Regions from separate parts of the Homo sapiens genome. Here region 1 is linked to region 2. Evidence: fine-mapped expression QTL. A gene starts in region 2. The other region holds a variant in brackets. All regions are shown on one strand. Distances are between the middles of the regions.

Region 1 (10,650 bases), 97 kb before region 2:
CTATGGGGAGATCTTAAAATTGGAATTGCTTAGTCAACAGGAATGCATATTATTTTAAAAACTGACATTTTTTTCAATCCTCATCCATATTGAGTTGGACCAATCATATACATTTTACCAATCAAATACATTAAATACCTGGCTTAAATTCAGTTTCTTAATTACTAGTGAATTTAGATGTTTATTTCTTGTGACTTAACTGTTTATATTTCTCTTAATTACTTGCTCATGTCACTTGCCCATTTTTACTCTTTTTCTTACTGTTATGCAAATGTTTCCTATAGTTTACAGATAATAAATATTATAGCTGTCAGTGGTGCAAACTTTTTTATTCTTTTACTTGTTGAAAAGATTTTTAAAAGTACTATTCAAGCATTTACAGAATATTTTATTTTAAAATAATTTTAGACTTTCAAAAGATTGTGGAAACAGTACACAAAGTTTTTATACAACCTTTACCCTGATTCCTCAAATATTAACACCTTGCAAAACCACAGTAGTCATCAAAATCAGTAAATTAACACTGACACAATACTATTGTCTAATCTACAGATCTTATTCAAATTTCACCGAAGTCCTTCTGGGCAAGGATCCTTTCTGGGATCATACATTGAATTCATTTGTTATGCCTCCTTAGTCTCTTTTAATCTGCAATAGTTCCTAAGTCTTTCTGTCTTTCATGATCTTGACACTTTTTAAGAGCATTGGCTGATTGTTTCCTAGAAAATCCCTTGATTTGGGTTTATTTGATGTTTCTTCATGAGTATGTAATCAAGAGAGTGACCTAGTCTGATGATGGTCAAAAATAACTTGCCTGAAAAAGAGATGCTTAAGCTAACACCAGAAAGATGGGTAGAAAGTGGAAGTATGAACTGAGGATGGGGTGCCTTTGCATTGACTTTGCATAGTGCATCTAAGCAACTGAAAGAAGCCAGTGGAGGAGGTGGTGTGAAAGAAGGCTCTAAGGAGGCAGTCTGGTCAGACCCAGCTTTGTGGGACTTATTAAGGTTATAGGATATTAACAGCAATAGAACATCATTCAAGGGCTTTAAGCAAAGGAATGGCAATATCTGAATCAGGTTTTTAAAAGATCACTACAGGTAGATTCTTCACCAGGTAGAATTAATCAAAGGGGAGCAAGATAGAAACAAATACAACAACTAGGAGGCAGTTCTAGCAATGCAGGCAGAGAAAAGGGTGGGGTGTACATTAAGGAGCCTCCCCGCAAAGACGGTGAAAACCTGCAGTTTTGAGAGATGTTTTGGAGGGTGAATCTGAATCTGCACATGCAGGTGATAGATTGGATGTGGGGTTAAGGGAAGGGGTAGGTGCAGGATTGCTAATATCAGCGTTTGCCAGATATTTGTGTAAGTGATTGGATGTTGGTACCATCCATGGAGATGAAAGAGACAATTCTTCACCTCTGATAGTGAAGTCAGAAGCATCACCATCTCCAATTCTTTTAGATGCCAACATTTACAATATATTTGCTTATTTATGCTTCTGTATCTCATTATAGCCACTTAGCTTCCAAGTTCTATGGTTTTTCCTCAGAATCTTTCCCAATAACTGTTTGTCCTTCTCCATTTCTTTCACTGCTCTTCAGTTTGGACAAGGGTTTCCTCATTCCAGTGTTGCATACTTGCTTCCTCTCTGGGCTACCAATTCCTCTATTCTCTGTAACTTTATCCATCGCTTCCAGAGTATGTGTGTTTAATAAATATGTACTAAGTGCCTCGTTTGGGCAGATCACTTTGTTGGGAAGAGTTGGGAATTAAGTAAGTTAAGTATATTTCATGGAACTGGAGTCAATTCCGAGTTATAATTGAGGCAGAAGGAAAAAGGCCATTCTGCCTAGCGGTCAAGAAAGGACCATATTCTTCTTTCACTCCTTACAAAAAATAAATTCCACACAGGTCAAATGTATTTATCCAAAAATGACTAACCACAGAAGTACCAGAAGAAAAGATCAGTAGACATATTTTAAAATTGTTTATGATGAGTAAGTTTGAAGACCTTTTAAAGAATGTTGAGAAACCTAGATACCATAAAGAAAATAGGTCCACTTGAAAGCTTAAATTTTAAAAATTCCATGTAAAAATTAAACAGCTTTCAAGCAAGAATGTCAGCTGAACTAATAATTATAGAAGGAAAAATAGAAATAGAAAAATGGCCACTTTCAAACACCACAATAATTGTCTCAGGGAAAAAAATCTTCAAATGCTAAAATTAGTGGGCAATGGTATATTTGCATAGTTTCCCTACAAGATACTTTTCAATTATAAAGAGAAAAATAGTATCGTGGAGAAACCTGACCGATATAACTTAAACAAATATCACGATTAACATCATTAATAATTGAACAAATCAATAACATATGTCTCCTGATACATCATGGAGGATACACCATCACTTATAAGGTATTTTTTTGCCAAAAAAATGCATAACTCTCATTGTTTTCTGTATTTCATCTTTCTCACAGTCACCACAATCTTTATTAGATAATTGTGTAGATAATTGTTTATTATTTTTACACCTCTCTGCCCCATTCCTGGTCCTTAGCAGAATGTAAGGTCCATAAAAGCACAAAGTAGGGGCTTTATAAGTAACATTGAATAAATGAATGAATAAATAAATTTATTTGGAGCTATCAGTTTTTACAGGAAAGATCCATTTAGCCTTGGATTGTATTGAATGAAAAATAACAGTTGGGTATCCTGGTGGAAATGGATGGAGGACATTTGAAGGTACAATGCTAAAGCTCAAATTAAGCTGAAGCCATGAAAAAAAAAGGTGTCTTATAGAATAAAGATATATCAAGAAAAAAAGATGAAATATTAATATTTGAGATGCAGGGTGAGGGAGGAGAAAGGAAACACCTCCACTTCAGAGAGGCCAAGGCAGGAGTTGATTTTAAATAGGGAAAGTTCAGCTGATCAGGGCCAGGTGCTTAGTGGGGGTTTGTAACTGTTTAATGCAGTGAGTCTCAAGTTTTAATGTGCATAAAAACATCCTGGGCTGGAGATCCCTGGGGCACCCTTCCCAGAAATTTTGACTCAGTGGGGCCTAGAAATCTGTGGGGTTTGTGTATGTGTCTGTGTGTGTGCGTGTGCGTGTGTGTGTGTGTGTGTGTGTGTGGCCAGCACACCCCTCCTCCACCAAGTCATTGTAATGCAGGCAAGTTATCCAGGAACCACTCCCAGAGGGAACATGGCATCCAAATCAGGGGGATGTCAGCTCTAGGGTAGGAAGGTAGGAAGGGGATGAATGGTGAGCAAATTTGGACAGCAGATGACCACTTGCTAACAACTTTGCCAGAATAAGGAGCTCTTCAAGAAAACTCTTTAAAATGGATTGCCAGGGAAAGTTAAGAAGGAAACTTTTTTCTGTTTCTGCCTACTGCATTGAAGAGATTGTCCAGTGCAAAACCAAATGTATGAATACAGCCTCTGCTGTGACATGTTAAACAGTTAAGATTCTTGTGGTTGGAGAACACTGGAGAAGCAGTGGATGACAAGTACTTCAGGATGGCCCTCTTTTGCTTTTGAATAATAGTGCTGGACTCAGTCCATTTTGTAGAACTACTGTCCTTAAGAAAGTTATGAAAATTAAATAAAATTGATTAATAATGCCCAAGGACTAACTACATTTCTGAGCTTTCAGGCAACTGGCAGGCAGGAAAATGATGCTATTTCAAACATTTATTTGTGACTCATTATACTTCATTGAACTAAGTATCTTTTGGATAGTATTTTCTTAAAAGCAAAATTCCAATAAAAAAGGAAGTATATTAAAAGGTACATTAAAGTTTAGTGCCTTATGGGTAGCTTATCTTTAGAAATGCATTATTTCCAGGAATGTTTAGTATTTTAACAGGAGGAGAGCAAATTAGCAAGTTCATATGAATTTGTGGTGAAAAAATATCTGTGTACAAATATGAATCTCTCTCCAGCACCTCAAATTCATTTGCCAAGTGTTTTATAATGCATATTAATTGAATCATCACATTTAGAAAAGAATCTAAAATTAGCACATTGATGAGCATATGAAATGCCTTTGATATAGCACAAAAATGTAGAATTTATATTAAAAACCAGCAAATATTTTGAATTGAACTGTGTCTAGATAGAATAATTATGGATTTGAATTTCTTAACTACATATACCATGTAGTCAGTCCACAAACACTGAATCATTCTGCCGATGAAAAAAGTGAAGGGAGCTGGGCACGGTGGCTCACACCTGTAATCCCAGTACTTTGGGAGGCCGAGGCGGGCGGATCACCTGAGGTCAGGAGTTCGAGACCAGCCTGGCCAACATAGTGAAACCCCGTCTCTACTAAAAATACAAAATTAGCCAGGCATGGTAGTGCATGCCTGTAATCCCAGCTACTTAGGAAGCTGAAAGAGGAGAATCGCTTGAACCTAGGAAGCGGAGGTTGCAGTGAGCTGAGATTGCACCATTGCACTCCAGCCTGGGCAACAAGAGTGAAATTTCCTCTCCAACAAAAAAATGTGAAGG[G/A]AATGAATGTCCTTTTATTTCTTTGGCAGGGAGGAGATAATGAATCAGATAGTTGTAATGCTGAACTGAAATCTTCATTTCCACAGTAAATTTTTTCATTCTTGTCCAAGGCCCAAGGATGTGACCTTCTCTTGGATTTTCCTGATTATTATGAGAGGCAAGTCGTTAGTGTTGCAGTGTGACTGTGAGTATAAGCCCTGAACTCCTGTGCACTTAGAGTCCCTGCTCTGTCATTTGCTTGAATTACTTATCTCTTCTAGGCTTTAGTTTTCTTATCTGTAAAATGGAAATCATGGTCGTAATCATTTGAGTGTTTCCTGGCACCAAGCATTGTGCTATATGTTTTACAAGCATTATCTCACTTTACCTTCTCAGTACCCCTATTCATTATCAACCTCCTTTGCAGTTTGGGAAGCTGCAGTTCTGCTGTTAGTGGTTCCTGGAGCCAGAATTTGAATTCAGATGTTCTAACCCTGGAGACTGCATGTCTAATCCCAAGGCTCAACTACCTCCTATTGGAGAAGGCTAACTGAGATCATGTGTGTTCATGCATCCAGTTAGCCAGGGAACGAAAGCATTCTGCTAATGGTACCTATTGTTTTATACAGGTTTTTTTTTTGGCTATCTTTTTCTATTGAAGGCGACATAGTACCTTGCCTGCCCAGAATTCAGCTCACTCTTACCTAGAAGGCAGTCTAGAAAAAACAAGATAAAAGGCATTTTGAGCAGCAAAATTAGAAATCATGTAGCACATTCACTGTAATCAGCAGGTGGTTCACTCACAGAAGATCTCTCCTGATGCACACCTAGTCTATACTTTCATTCTGTAAATAATCTCAAATAATTTTTATCAATGAGAGAAAATAGATTAAAGGAGGAAAAAGACCGAATTCAAGAAGTTTAGTAAATAAGTTGCCTTTTAAGTGATTTTTTTCTAAATGAATGACAGATTAAACGGAGCAAATTAGAAATGGAGGGAAGCATTGTTAATGTTGAATTATGAAGAAAGGGTTAATGTTTCTATTTTAAGTTAAGGAGTAAATAATATATCTTAGAACTGTTTCCTTCAAAAATATTTAAATCTCATAATATTTTATGATTATTATTTACTATTTTACTATTCAGAATCACCTCTTTTGTCACGGGATTCATATAGCTAAAGATTTTCTTATATTTCCAGAGGAATCCTATGCTAATTAGGGAGCATATTACAGAATCCTAAGAGTGCCTTTTGTAATGGCATTTTAAATCTTATATAATAACAATTTAGAAGAGAACGGTTTTAGGGTAAGATCAGCAGCTCAGCCATGTGAGCAAGGAGCCAGGCTCATTCCACCCTTGGGTTCTGCCATCCTCCAGACACTGGCTGTCCTTGGACTTGACCCTTCTAGGTTGCAAAATGGCTGCTGCCTTTTAAAACTTATGTGAAGTCACATGTTCAGCTGATGAAAAGGCATATATTCCCTAGGATGTCTCTTTGTATTAGAGATGAAAATTTCTCACAGAATCCTCCCAACAGATTTCCCCTCAGGTCTCATTGTCCAATATTTGGTTACTTGCCAACCAGCCAAGTCCTGACTACAAGGGAGACTGAGAAAGTGACTATCTCTAGTGGGACTGGGCCCTGCTGGTGAGGAAGAAGTAGTGGTGGCTAGGGGATAGATAACTGTCTGTCAAAAGCTCATTGCAAAGAAGCAAGTAGTTACACATCAACCGACCATCTGATATCTGTAATAGAAGTCAACTTTTAGCAGAGGTCATTAACCTCACCTCTCCAACATTTGCTGTGAGAAAGAACTGATTTTCTTTGAGTTTCTTCCTGCAAGCTGGGAACTATAATGGAACTTTATTACCTCATTTAAGCTTTAGTTGAATTCTTCTGGAAAGCTATTGTTGTGCCTATTTAATAGATGAAGATAAGGTGCACAAAAAGGTTAAATAAGCTGCTGTAGCACTCCCAACTAGTGATAGAAACTGGCCCCTCCTAAAGTAGTATATGGCCCCCAAACCTGAGCTCTTCGTGCTAAGGGCACCGAACCACTTCATCTTGGTGGCTGGATAAAAAGTTTGTATTACACTATGCAAAATAATTATTTTATGGCCCAGTATGTGACTTTCTTGCACTCACAGTAGCCTAGATCTACCTCAAGGTAATTTAACACATGCATCAGGAGTGGTTTGTTTAATCATCTTTCCTGTAACAACTACATTCTTGCTCATTGATCTAATATAAACCATTCTGTTGTGACTGGTATATTTAATGTGGAATATACCTCTAGAAGTAACAGACAAGCACCTGGCACCTAGTAAATGATAATATATAGTACTTACAAATATAGGGAAAAAATCCAATAAAAGCTATTTCTAATATTATGATCATTTCGTTTTTATCTTATCAATATTTTAGTAAAGATAATTTATCATCTATGTCACAGCATATTTCTGATTGCAGATATTATAGAAGATAAGTGTAAAAACAAATCAATGTAATCTTTGCTTTTGATGTCTGAATTTTTAAAATCCTTCAAAAGGGACATGAAGGGTGGGCCTAGATTTATTTATTTTTCCTGAAGTAGGGCCCAATCTGTAAGACTGTGACTCAGGAGATCCTTCTTTGTGTCTCTGTCATTTAAGACATGGGAATGACCCTTTACCTCTCTTTATCTAAATCAGATTAGGTCATTGCAGCCTACAGGCTGAGTTACAATAATTTTCTTTGTCTACCTCCAACTGAGTAAATTGCACCATGTTCTTCCTGGAAAACATGACCACTAACCCAGTGGCTGTTGGTTTGGCCAATTAGAAATGAGACTGCTGGAGGTGGTATAAGGTGCTCTGTCCTCTCTTAACTGCCAATGGGCCACACCTACTTATCCAGGTCACTAGGGCACTCAAGTCAAAAGAAGTGCCTGGGAGAAAATGGCACATTTGGGTGATGGTCTCGCTGGCTGTTTACTGTATGCTGAGTCTCTTAGGAGACCGTTCACTGCCTGGTAATCATCTGCTTTCTGAATTCTGGAAAATATTTCTCTGTGGATGAAAATGGGTCAGGATTCTGAACTTTGCCACACACACACAAACACACACATACATGCACGCACGCACACACACACACTATTTTAAGAAAAAGAAAGAAAGAAAAGAAAAGGAAATTAAGGCTGAAAAAATCACAAAATAAGCACCATGCTAGGTCAGATATTTTCCTCTGTTCATTCTTGCATTGTTTGCTGCTGATTTTAAAGGGCAGAATTGTTGAGACTCTTCCATGTTTCCATGGGGGACTTCAGACTTGGAAACATTGCAGGGACACAAAAGCCAAGAGGATTTTGCTATGGTTATGTAGAGAATAAACTGTTACAAGCTCAGAGCTGTGAAATACCAATTTGGAGAGGATACTTACCCCCTCCCAGGCCACTTATGGATGAGACAGCATTTTGGCCACATCCCCTCTGGGCACAGTCGACTGCTCAGTTGGTTCTGGGAGCTACTTGTTAGCTGAATCTCTGGGACAGGGGTTGGCCTCCATGTGCTCATTGTGAATATGTATGGTTCTGACACCATGATTCCCCACATTCTTGTGAGTCGGATTAACAGAAAGCAGACACTCCCCTACTCCTCTATAAAAGGTCAGATTAAAGAAAAAAAATGATGATGTCTTTGGAGGTTATGGTCAGGAAAAGGGGCTAGCAATAAAAGCAAGAAGGCAAGAGCTCTGAAGCAAGAACTCTGAAGAGATATCTTAGAGGTTAAACAGATCACAAGGCTGTAGTTCAGATGATCAGATGTTATCAAGCCACAAGAATGTGAGGTAGAGGTCAGGGAGTAGGCTGAGATTAAAGCGGGCGTTTCTGATGAATGTTTTCCATTAGTTTTAAGCCACTCTAAAAGCAGCGAAGTGTGGCTGTGACAAGCGCCCTGCCGAATGAGTAAAGTAAACCTTGGAGGGGGCTCAGTAAAGGATATTTAGCAAGCAAATGATAGAGCCTAGACTCAACACCCAGGCTTATCTCACTCCAAAGGCTGTTTGCACCGTGTGCTTTGTAGCACTTTGGACCTCCACTTTGGAGGGGGAATTTATTTTATTCTTGCATGATACTGAATACTTCCCATTAGTTAGCATCTGTGGATCTCAAGTACTATGAGGTGAAGTACCTCTTACTGTACCCTCAGTTCAAATTTTCTAATTGTTTTAGTAAGACCACAGTAGCACAAATGGCAAGTGGTACTTGCTGTTAATTTTTCCTGTTTTAGATTCTCCTGGCCCACTTTATTTCTGATTAGATTGAGGTAGCATAGTGAGTTTTTGTTTTGTTTATTCATTTGCATTGTTGATCTAGAGCCGTGGTTTTCAGACTTTATTGGTCTTGGAACCCCTTTACACTCTTAATTACTAAGGACACTAAAAAGCTTTGTTTATGTGAGTTATATCTATTTATATTTACTGTATTAAAAATCAAAACAGACATTTATAAGAGTATGCAAGTAAGCATTCCATTAACTCTTGTACCCTCTGGAAATCTCCACTATACAACTGTGAAAGATTGATATTTAAAAAGTCAAATAATGCTTTAGTAATATTATGAAAGTAATATTGACCTCACAGACTCCCTGACAGGATCGTGGGGAACCTGGACCACATTTTGAGAGCCACTGAACTAGAAAACATACCTGTTTATGTTGATCTTGCAATTGTTTATAATGCAACTGTAAGTGCCAGGACTAGGGGGCAAAAAGATAAAGGAATTAAGACAGGACCATCAGCTAATACATGGTTCAAAAAATAAGTTGACTGACCAGTCTGTGAACTTCTTTCATCTTAGATTTGAGGGGAGTTGGCTTCTATTTCTGAATTATTAATATATTCATATGTGGGAGTGAATAGTTTTTATCTATAGTAATTTAATAAACTCTGATGTTTAAGATATGTTTAAACATTTCATACATATAGAAGCTCATTACAGAGATGTTTGTTTCATTGTTTCTGCTCACACTTAGCATTGTTTTCTGGTCACCCAGCCCTGAATCCACCTTTCCTCTCTTGGCATATCCCACTGCCTCCTACAGGAGGATAAAGTGCTAGATATTTACATTTTCGGCCATCTTTTCAGCCAGGCTGCAGGCATGGGACCCAGACTTTGCCAGTCAGACATCTGCATCTCATGCTTTGAAATAGAAACTAGAGACATGCAGAAGTACATGGCGGCTGCACATCGTTCCCAGGGCAGCAGCTAGTTGCTGGAGTTGCTGGTGTTGGTAGTAGAAGCTGTAGAATCCCCTGTTCATCAAGTGATAGAGATAGCAGAGGTGTTTTCACCAGACCAATGCTGCTGTGTAGTCTGGGGCAGTGTTCTTGGATATGTAGCTTCCAAACCTGATTTCTCTGGCCTTCCTAGAAGTTTGTGTTTTTTTTCATTATCCTTCTGTGAATTCAAGAGTCAGACCTTTGCCTGCAATTAAGAATCCTGCTTAATTCATTCTGAAATGCAGTGTCTCTCAAAGTATTGTTTGGAAACCTCATGTATTGGAATGACTGGGCCATATCTGACAATACCTACTTGTGGGCTTAAAACCGATGGATTCAGAATCCTTAGGGTGGGTCTTAGGAGACTGCATTTTAAACAGATCTCAGGTTTATGTGATTTTAGATGCAGTAAAATGTAAAAACCGCTATCCTAATATTTTCAACCTTTTAAATTCTATGCTCTCTCTTTATGGATCTGAGCAATCATCAAAAGAAATAATTCTACTTTTTAAATATTTTATTTTTGAGCTGGAGTCTCGCTCTGTCACCCAGGCTAGAGTGTAGTGGTGCCATCTCAACTCACTGCATCCTCCGCCCCATGGATTCAAGCAATTCTCCTGCCTCAGCCTCCCTAGTAGCTGGGATTACAGGCGTGCACTACCACGCCTGGCTAATTTTTGTATTTTCAGTAGAGACGGAGTTTCACCACGTTGCCCAGACTGGTCTTGAACTCCTGACCTCAGGTGATCCGCCTGCCTCGGCCTCCCAAAGTGCTGGGATTACAGGCGTGAATCACTGTGTCTGGCCAATTCTACTCTTTTATAAGGCCCTAATAAATGACTTACTAGTGTTTTCTTGTTCCCCTCCCTCCCCGGCTTCACATTCCCC
Region 2 (8,000 bases):
TTTCCTCTCAGTGTGGTTTCCTCTCAGCATGAGTTGACTGTTTTCAGCTCTGGCAGGGCCACAAGCTCCCTTCACAACCAACCACATCAGTTTCACATCTCACATATTTCTACTTCAAATCCAATGAAAAAGAAAGGGTTTGTGTCCCAGTGTTTCCAGTAAAGATCCCAAAATCTACTCCAACTGAATGTGATGTGCTGATTGGCTTAAGCCAAGTCACATTTCCCACCCACTACCTCCCTCCACCTACACATATACCCAAGCCCTGGGATTGGTACCAATGCCACTGTGATGGTTAATTTTATGTATCAAATTAGCTAGGCCATGGCACTTGGCTATTTAGTCAAACACTATCTTAGATGTTTCTGTAAAGCAATGTTTTGGATGGGATTAACATTTAAATCTTTACACTTTGAGTAAAACATTTGCTTTCTATAATGTCAATAGGCCTTATCCAGTTAGTTGAAGGCCTTAAAAAAGAAAAAAAAAAAGACTGACTTCCACTGAGTGAGTGAGAATTATGCCAGCAGACGGCCTTTGGACTTGAACTATAACTTTTTCATGGGTCTCCAGCCTGTTGGCCAATGCTAAAGTTTTGGACTTGCCAGCCTCTACAATCACGTGAGCCAACTCCTATCTATCTTTCCATTTATTCATTCTCTTGGTTCTATTTCTCTAGAGAACCCTGACTAAAAGAACCACTCACATCAAATAGTTAAGAAGAGGGGAGAGGGACAGTTTTTCTAAAGACAACTTGGAAGTACTATTACCAGAAGGAAGAAGAAGGAGAAAGGCAGGATAAACAGTCATGGATATACACTATAGCTGGGAGTTATTAAAATCAACTTATTGCAATTTAGTAAAAACAATTTGGTTGACAACATTTTTTAAACATTAGGACCAAAGGGGAAAAGAACAAAAGTCTTAGTGGTAAAAAGATGTAGAAGTTTTTTTTTTTTTTTGTTTTGTTTTTTATCTTAACTCTTCCTGTTTTTTTACATAGTCAAGATTCTTGTTTAAGTGTTATTCAGAATGTTCAGAAACCAGGATATCTTTTGAGTAGAAGCTTTAACTTATATGGTATGGTTTGAATAAGGATGGTTGTCCAAAATATCTCCAACATCTGTTGGAGTGCCTGAAATTCTATTATTAAAATTTTATTTCTTTGCCCTTGAAGGCCTGAGGACTCTCAGGAATATGCTGGTAAAATAAAAATAACCTTTAGAGATGCCCAAACTGTTTTCCCCAGAACACCAGCATTCATTAGGTGTTCATTCAATAGATTCTTCAAAGGATTCCAAAGGCAAAGAAGTTTGGGGAACAGTATATATAATTACCCAACCCTTTGACATTAGCATACTAAGGGCCCTGAGAAGTTTTGGATTCAGAAAGTTTTCAAATTAAAGTAACCCAGAATTTTCTAAGATTATTTGACCATGAAACATATGTCTCCCCACAAAGCACATATTCCTATCTCCTTGAACTTGAGGATAATTAGACGTACGTGGGCAGAGGGTAGGGGAAGGGGGTATGGCATAGAAAGAGCAGGACCTTGGGAGCAAGAATATCTAAGTTTAATTCCTGACTCTGCTATTTATTAACTAACCATCTTTGCCAATGTTGCTTAAGCTTTTTTGGCTACATTTTTTTATTTGTAAAGTAAGTTTAATAATCACTCATCTCACTGGGCTATAATGATAAGTATTAAGTAAGGAAGATCCACATATGTGAGTTGCTGGCTTATAATTCACACTCAAGAGATACTGATTTTGTCAATTGTCCTTTCCCCTTTTTTTCTCTCTTCCCTCCTTCCATTCCTTCTTCCCTTACCTCTCCTTTCCTTCCCTCACACCCCTTTTCCTTCCTTCTTTTTACATTTTTTTATTTAAATGAACTTTTCATTTTGGAATAGTTTTAGGATTTCAAAAAATTTGCAGAGATAATACAGAGAATGCCCATATACCATCCTCCTTATCCCACTTCTTTTTGTGTCTATTAGATGCTCAGAGTGTGTGCACAAGGCTGGCACGCCCAGGGTCTTCCTCATGGCACTAACAGTCTACTGAAAGGTGGAACAGAGACAAGCCTATCAACACCTACAAGACTGGTGGTAAGTGCAGTGACAGATGCAAAACACAGGGTGATGGAAAGCCCTCAGGAGGGTAACCTAACCTAGATTTGAGGGCCCAAACAGGCTCCAGAAGAAAATGTCAACTGAGAGGAAGCCTGAAGGATGAACAGTGGGCTAAGCAAAGGGTTATTAATGTGTTATTAATGGGTTGAATCTAATTGGGAAGGGAGAGAGGTTGCAGAGTGAGGTGCAGAGCTTGGTGGACGATGCCAAAGGAATACTGAAACCTTTAGTGTGTCCAGTCTGGAACTGCATCCAAATTCAGGTTCAGTAATGATGTCATTATCCAAACATACCTTCTGTAAAATTCATGCTAAACTACCTAAGAGCTATCTACCGTTCCAAAGCAATAGTGACTTTGAACAGTGTTCACCAGAGCACGAAAGAATTACAAGATTTTTTTTTAAAGAAAATTGGCCAGGAAATAATGAGTAACGAAGGACAGGAAGTAATTGTGAATGTTTAATATAGCTGGGGCTATGCGATTTGGCTTAAGTTGTTAGCTTTGTTTTCCTCTTGAGAAATAAAAACTAAGGGGCCCTCCCTTTTCAGAGCCCTATGGCGCAACATCTGTACTTTTTCATATGGTTAACTGTCCATTCCAGAAACGTCTGTGAGCCTCTCATGTTGCAGCCACAACATGGACAGCCCAGTCAAATGCCCCGCAAGTCTTTCTCTGAGTGACTCCAGCAATTAGCCAAGGCTCCTGTACCCAGGCAGGACCTCTGCGCTCTGAGCTCCATTCTCCTTCAAGACCTCCCCAACTTCCCAGGTTGAACTACAGCAGAAGCCTTTAGAAAGGGCAGGAGGCCGGCTCTCGAGGTCCTCACCTGAAGTGAGCATGCCAGCCACTGCAGGAACGCCCCGGGACAGGAATGCCCATTTGTGCAACGAACCCTGACTCCTTCCTCACCCTGACTTCTCCCCCTCCCTACCCGCGCGCAGGCCAAGTTGCTGAATCAATGGAGCCCTCCCCAACCCGGGCGTTCCCCAGCGAGGCTTCCTTCCCATCCTCCTGACCACCGGGGCTTTTCGTGAGCTCGTCTCTGATCTCGCGCAAGAGTGACACACAGGTGTTCAAAGACGCTTCTGGGGAGTGAGGGAAGCGGTTTACGAGTGACTTGGCTGGAGCCTCAGGGGCGGGCACTGGCACGGAACACACCCTGAGGCCAGCCCTGGCTGCCCAGGCGGAGCTGCCTCTTCTCCCGCGGGTTGGTGGACCCGCTCAGTACGGAGTTGGGGAAGCTCTTTCACTTCGGAGGATTGCTCAACAACCATGCTGGGCATCTGGACCCTCCTACCTCTGGTGAGCCCTCTCCTGCCCGGGTGGAGGCTTACCCCGTCTTAGTCCCGGGGATAGGCAAAGTGGGGCGGGCGCGGGACGCGTGCGGGATTGCGGCGGCAGCGGCGCACGCGGGCACCTGGGAGCGGCGGGCTGCTGCGGGAGGCGTTGGAGACTGGCTCCCGGGGGCTGTTAGGACCTTCCCTCAGGCCCGGGTGCTCAGAACGCTGGAGGACTTGCTTTTCTTGGGCCTTGATGCGAAGTGCTGACCCCGCTGGGCAGGCGGGGCAGCTCCGGCGCTCCTCGGAGACCACTGCGCTCCACGTTGAGGTGGGCGTGGGGTGCGGACAGGAATTGAAGCGGAAGTCTGGGAAGCTTTAGGGTCGCTGGAGGGGGACCCCGGTTGGAGAGAGGAGCGGAACTCCTGGACAAGCCCTGACAAGCCAAGCCAAAGGTCCGCTCCGGCGCGGGTGGGTGAGTGCGCGCCGCCCCGCGGGGGCGGGGAGAGAGCCTGCAGCCTTCAGAACAGATATTGCTCATTTTCTGGCAGTTCTCAGACGTAGGAAATAAGTCAGCACCGAAGCAGTGGTTAAGCCGGAGGGCTCGGAAGAACGGCACCTTTTCTTTCTCGAAAAAGTTATATGGGGGCTGAATGAGCTTCTGGAGGCTTGTTTACCGTTTTTTATTGTCACACAGAAAAAGAAACTGCCTTGTCTCCCTTCCGGGAATTCTCTCTTTAAGACTGTAAGTCGCTGCCTGAGTGGTTTCATTTTGTTTTGTTTTTCTGCCCTTCTCTTTCTTCTTTTGCCCTTTCTTAGCTTGCACTCCCATGGTGATTTCTGCTTGGTCTCCTGCTGGGGTTGGTGGTACTCGTTCCCACCGCACAGAACCCGGCGCCTATTATTGGCCAAGAAACTTGAGCAGCCTGTTTTGAAAAGTCCCTCGCTCAGAAATGCCAGCTTGCAGATGGCTAATCAAAGAGACGTGGATCCAGGAGGCTCATTTGAGTACCGGAGCCTCTGAGAGTCCATGGATTTTTATTTTATTGGGCCCCAACAAAGTGCCAGGCATAGCGAGAGAAGTGTTTACAAATGTGATCTCCGCGGATTCTCACGAGAGCCATGTAGTGGGGAAGATAACCACATCCCCATTTTACAGATGGCGAAATGAGGTTCAGAGAGCTTCAGTAATTCAGCCAAGATCACACAGCTAGTAAATGGGAGATATGGGATTGAACTCAGATCTAATTCCAAAACTCAGGCTGTTCGCTGATTGCATCTGATATCCAGATTACACCAAGAGGCTGAGATGTCTGGGTCCATTTTATGATTAGAAAAAAAAATCCTGTTCCTTTCAGAAATAGTGTGCACTATTTGGGATTCTTTAGAAACTTCCTTGGAGAAAATTAATGATTCAAGATTGAGAAAACATTTATACAACCTCAGGCCACACTCTTCTCTCTCTTGTTATTAACCATTGCACCACTGCAATGTTGGCTGCTTTGAAAATCTCATAGTTTTTGGACAGCAGTATTAGTAAAGTGTAAGAAAATTGTCAAAGCTTGGAGCTATGCTTGTTGAACTTTTGTACCAATAGCACCTTTACCAGAGGCTGCGTGTTTAAAGCCCGAAGAAAACTTTGCTTTTCTGAAAGAATACACACACACACGCATATGTAAATATTCATACATTTATGTATATATACATATTATAATACCTATAAGTTAGGTATAACTTATATTTGTATATGATATATGGCCTAGGAAATTAAGGCTTATTAAATAAAATTTATAAATGCAGATGAGTCAAATACAAAGATCAGACATAACTCTATCACCTAAGTAATCATTGTTTACGTTTTGCAGTTTATCTTCCATTTCTCCCCTCTAATATGACTCTTTTAAATTTAGTTACACAGAAATTGGTTTTGCGCTCACGACATGCCTAACATCAGGCCTTTATCCTTAAAGAAGTTTCAACACTCTTGTGTCACCTCATGTGTCTACAGAAAATGTTTGCTTTTATGCCTTCACGGTTATGTTTTCTTAGTAGTAGCAATAAATAAAATAGATGCAAAGTGCTAATTACTTGGAATACAGAAGCAAATTTTAATTCTATTAATGGGCTGGACATAGATGGGTGGGGAGCTGTTTTCTGCTTTTCCCCTCTTCCCCTAGTCCTCTGACTCTGGTGATAACTATAGTCAACAAGTATCCCCATCCTTAACCCCTTTTGCTTCTCTTTCTCTTTCCTTCTCTCAACCTTCCTGGTGTTAGTTTTCTCTTTCCTATTTCTGAGTGTTTTTACTCCGACACTTACAATAAAAAAGTTTGAAATCCCAAAAAGTTGACAAATTTCTAAAGGAGACAGAAAAAGAGTCAAACTTACTTTACAAATTAATTTGAGAAATAGCTGTGGGTTGCATTTTTTTTTTTTATTGTGCATGACCCTGTTATTGGCCAAGAAACTTGAGCAGCCTGTTTTGGAAAGTCCCTCGCTCAGAAATGCCAGCTTGCTAATTGAAGGGATGTGGATCCATGAGGCTCATTTGAATTCCGAAGCCTCTAAGAGTCCATGGATTTTTATTTTATTGGGCCCCAACAGGTTTTGTCTTGCATTATTTAGGACATTGGCCAGGCAATCACTGGACAGCCAGTTTGCTCTCCTTTACATTTTGTAGAATGGTTATCTTATGGTCAAAGGAAAGGGAGAGGGCCTTTGGAAAATAAAGCTGTGTATTTACAAGCAGTCATACAGAATAGTTTTGTGGGGAAAATAAAGAACAGTTATTTAATTTGTAATTTAATCATTTTTCTTAAACCAACCCAAAGAGCATAAAATGGAATATTTATTTATTTTTGTAGCTTAATTTGTAATTTAATAATTTTTCTTAAGCCAACCTAACGAACATATTGGGCTGTTTATTTTCATTTTTAATGGGCCATATTTACATCACAAAGGACTTGAGAAGTCTTACAAATACAATAAAATGATAAAATATGAATTAAGACATTAGCAACCAGGATGGAAAAACACAAATTTGTAAATGATGGCCAGGTTTGCAAGCAAAAATTAAATTGATAAATGGCAGCACCCCCACTACCAGCTATAGTTAGACTGATGAAAAATCCTCTAATGTTCATGCCTGAAATACAGTTACCACCCTTAGCAGCAAATTAGAGGCAAAGAAGTTCTGGAATTTGGACGTTGTCTCTGAGTAAGCTCTTTGAGACACTGGACAAGTAATTTCCTTCTGAATACTCTTATACTGACACATAGGAGAAGTGTCAGTGTTTCAAAGGAATCTCTTTGAAGGCTACTACATTGCTTTAGGGGTGCCAGATTACCAGAGTAAACTGCCAGTTTGAGAGAATAACTGTTTCTTAAGAGATGGTCTGAAACCTAAGTAAGGAAATCCCCCCACTTGAAAGCCCCTAGGAAGTTAATTGCTTTTGGCAAATTATCTTGGGCCCCAAAAGTCCCTTGATGAGCACATGTTTTGTAATAGGTACTAAAGACTATTTACTTATGATGAAAAATAAAATAACACAATTTAAAACTTGAAATTGATAAAAAGCAACTTGAAACCAAATTTAGGACAGTGAACCCATCCCTTTCTTATTTTTAAATAGGTAAATATAGAAAAAATGACCACATGATGTGAAACAAAAAGCAAATATTTAAAAACTACATTTATACTTTATCTCACCACACTAATGTAAAGAATTTTGATTTTACTTATAAATTCTTAGCCTTGTCTACACATATACATAATTGCATGTTTAATTTGAGCTATATATAGTCTGTTTTTTGTTCCTTTGCATGTTACACAAACCTTTTTCTATTTCTACATAATTTTTATCTCATATTTTTTATTGGATACATTATAGAGAGAGCATTTATTAAATGAGCTGGGATTACTATAATTTTTATTATTTATTTTTTAATTTATTACTTATTTTTATAATTTACTATTGAAAAAAAGCATTTCTTAAATGTACTGGGATACATATATATATATGACTTTTTCTTGTTACTAAAAAATTACTCATAGAACTTACATATTAAAATTTTAGGACTTGTGATGAAAAATAATAAAATAATTCAAAACGATAAAAAGCAACATAATTTTATATGTTGTACCTTGTACTTCCTTATAAGGTACAACACTACAATAGCCTTAGTGTGTAGTTTTCTTTTTGCTATGTATGTATATATATATTCATAAAAGTGGAAAAATAACATTTAATAAATCCTCTTTATTTTCTGGAAAATCCTTGCTTTAAAAAAAGTCTTTAGCTTTTTATATAGTTCTACTTCTAACACCAATTAAATATCTTCAATTCAGTCTCAAGCAGGAACAAATCTTCAGTCCACTTGCCTACCTTTACTGTCTTTGAAGTGACAGTGTGAGTAGTAAAGCCCAAATCAGAGAGAAATTGACTTTTGTAAGATTGGTAACTTCACCTTCCCCGGAAGGAAATGAGGTGGTTCTTCCCTTTGATCACAACTGCTTTCTTGATTTGAAATAAACTGTTGTACAGCCCAGTCACCCCATCTTTAGACATTTAGAAATGGCAATCATAGT

What was found. PIP is the estimated chance that this variant, and not a neighbour inherited with it, causes the effect.
Region 1: its variant is fine-mapped to the expression of FAS in whole blood (TOPMed, PIP 0.93).

The regions. Positions count from the first base shown.
Region 1 is chr10:88,889,241-88,899,890 of GRCh38, forward strand. The region is part of intron 1 of STAMBPL1 (STAM binding protein like 1); the gene reads left to right. Among named protein-coding and RNA genes, the nearest start is that of STAMBPL1, 14 kb to the left of the region's middle. RefSeq lists an enhancer at 9,599-9,688. The variant G/A (reference allele first, on the strand shown) is at 4,521.
Region 2 is chr10:88,987,470-88,995,469 of GRCh38, forward strand. FAS (Fas cell surface death receptor) reads left to right here and starts at 3,329. Exons shown (of 9, transcript NM_000043.6): 1 at 3,329-3,437. The coding sequence starts at 3,408. FAS-AS1 (FAS antisense RNA 1) reads right to left here and starts at 5,506. Exons shown (of 1, transcript NR_028371.1): 1 at 3,953-5,506. It also overlaps a transcript of ACTA2 not described here. RefSeq lists a silencer at 2,025-2,074 and enhancers at 2,482-2,993, 2,994-3,504, 3,645-4,054, 4,185-4,264.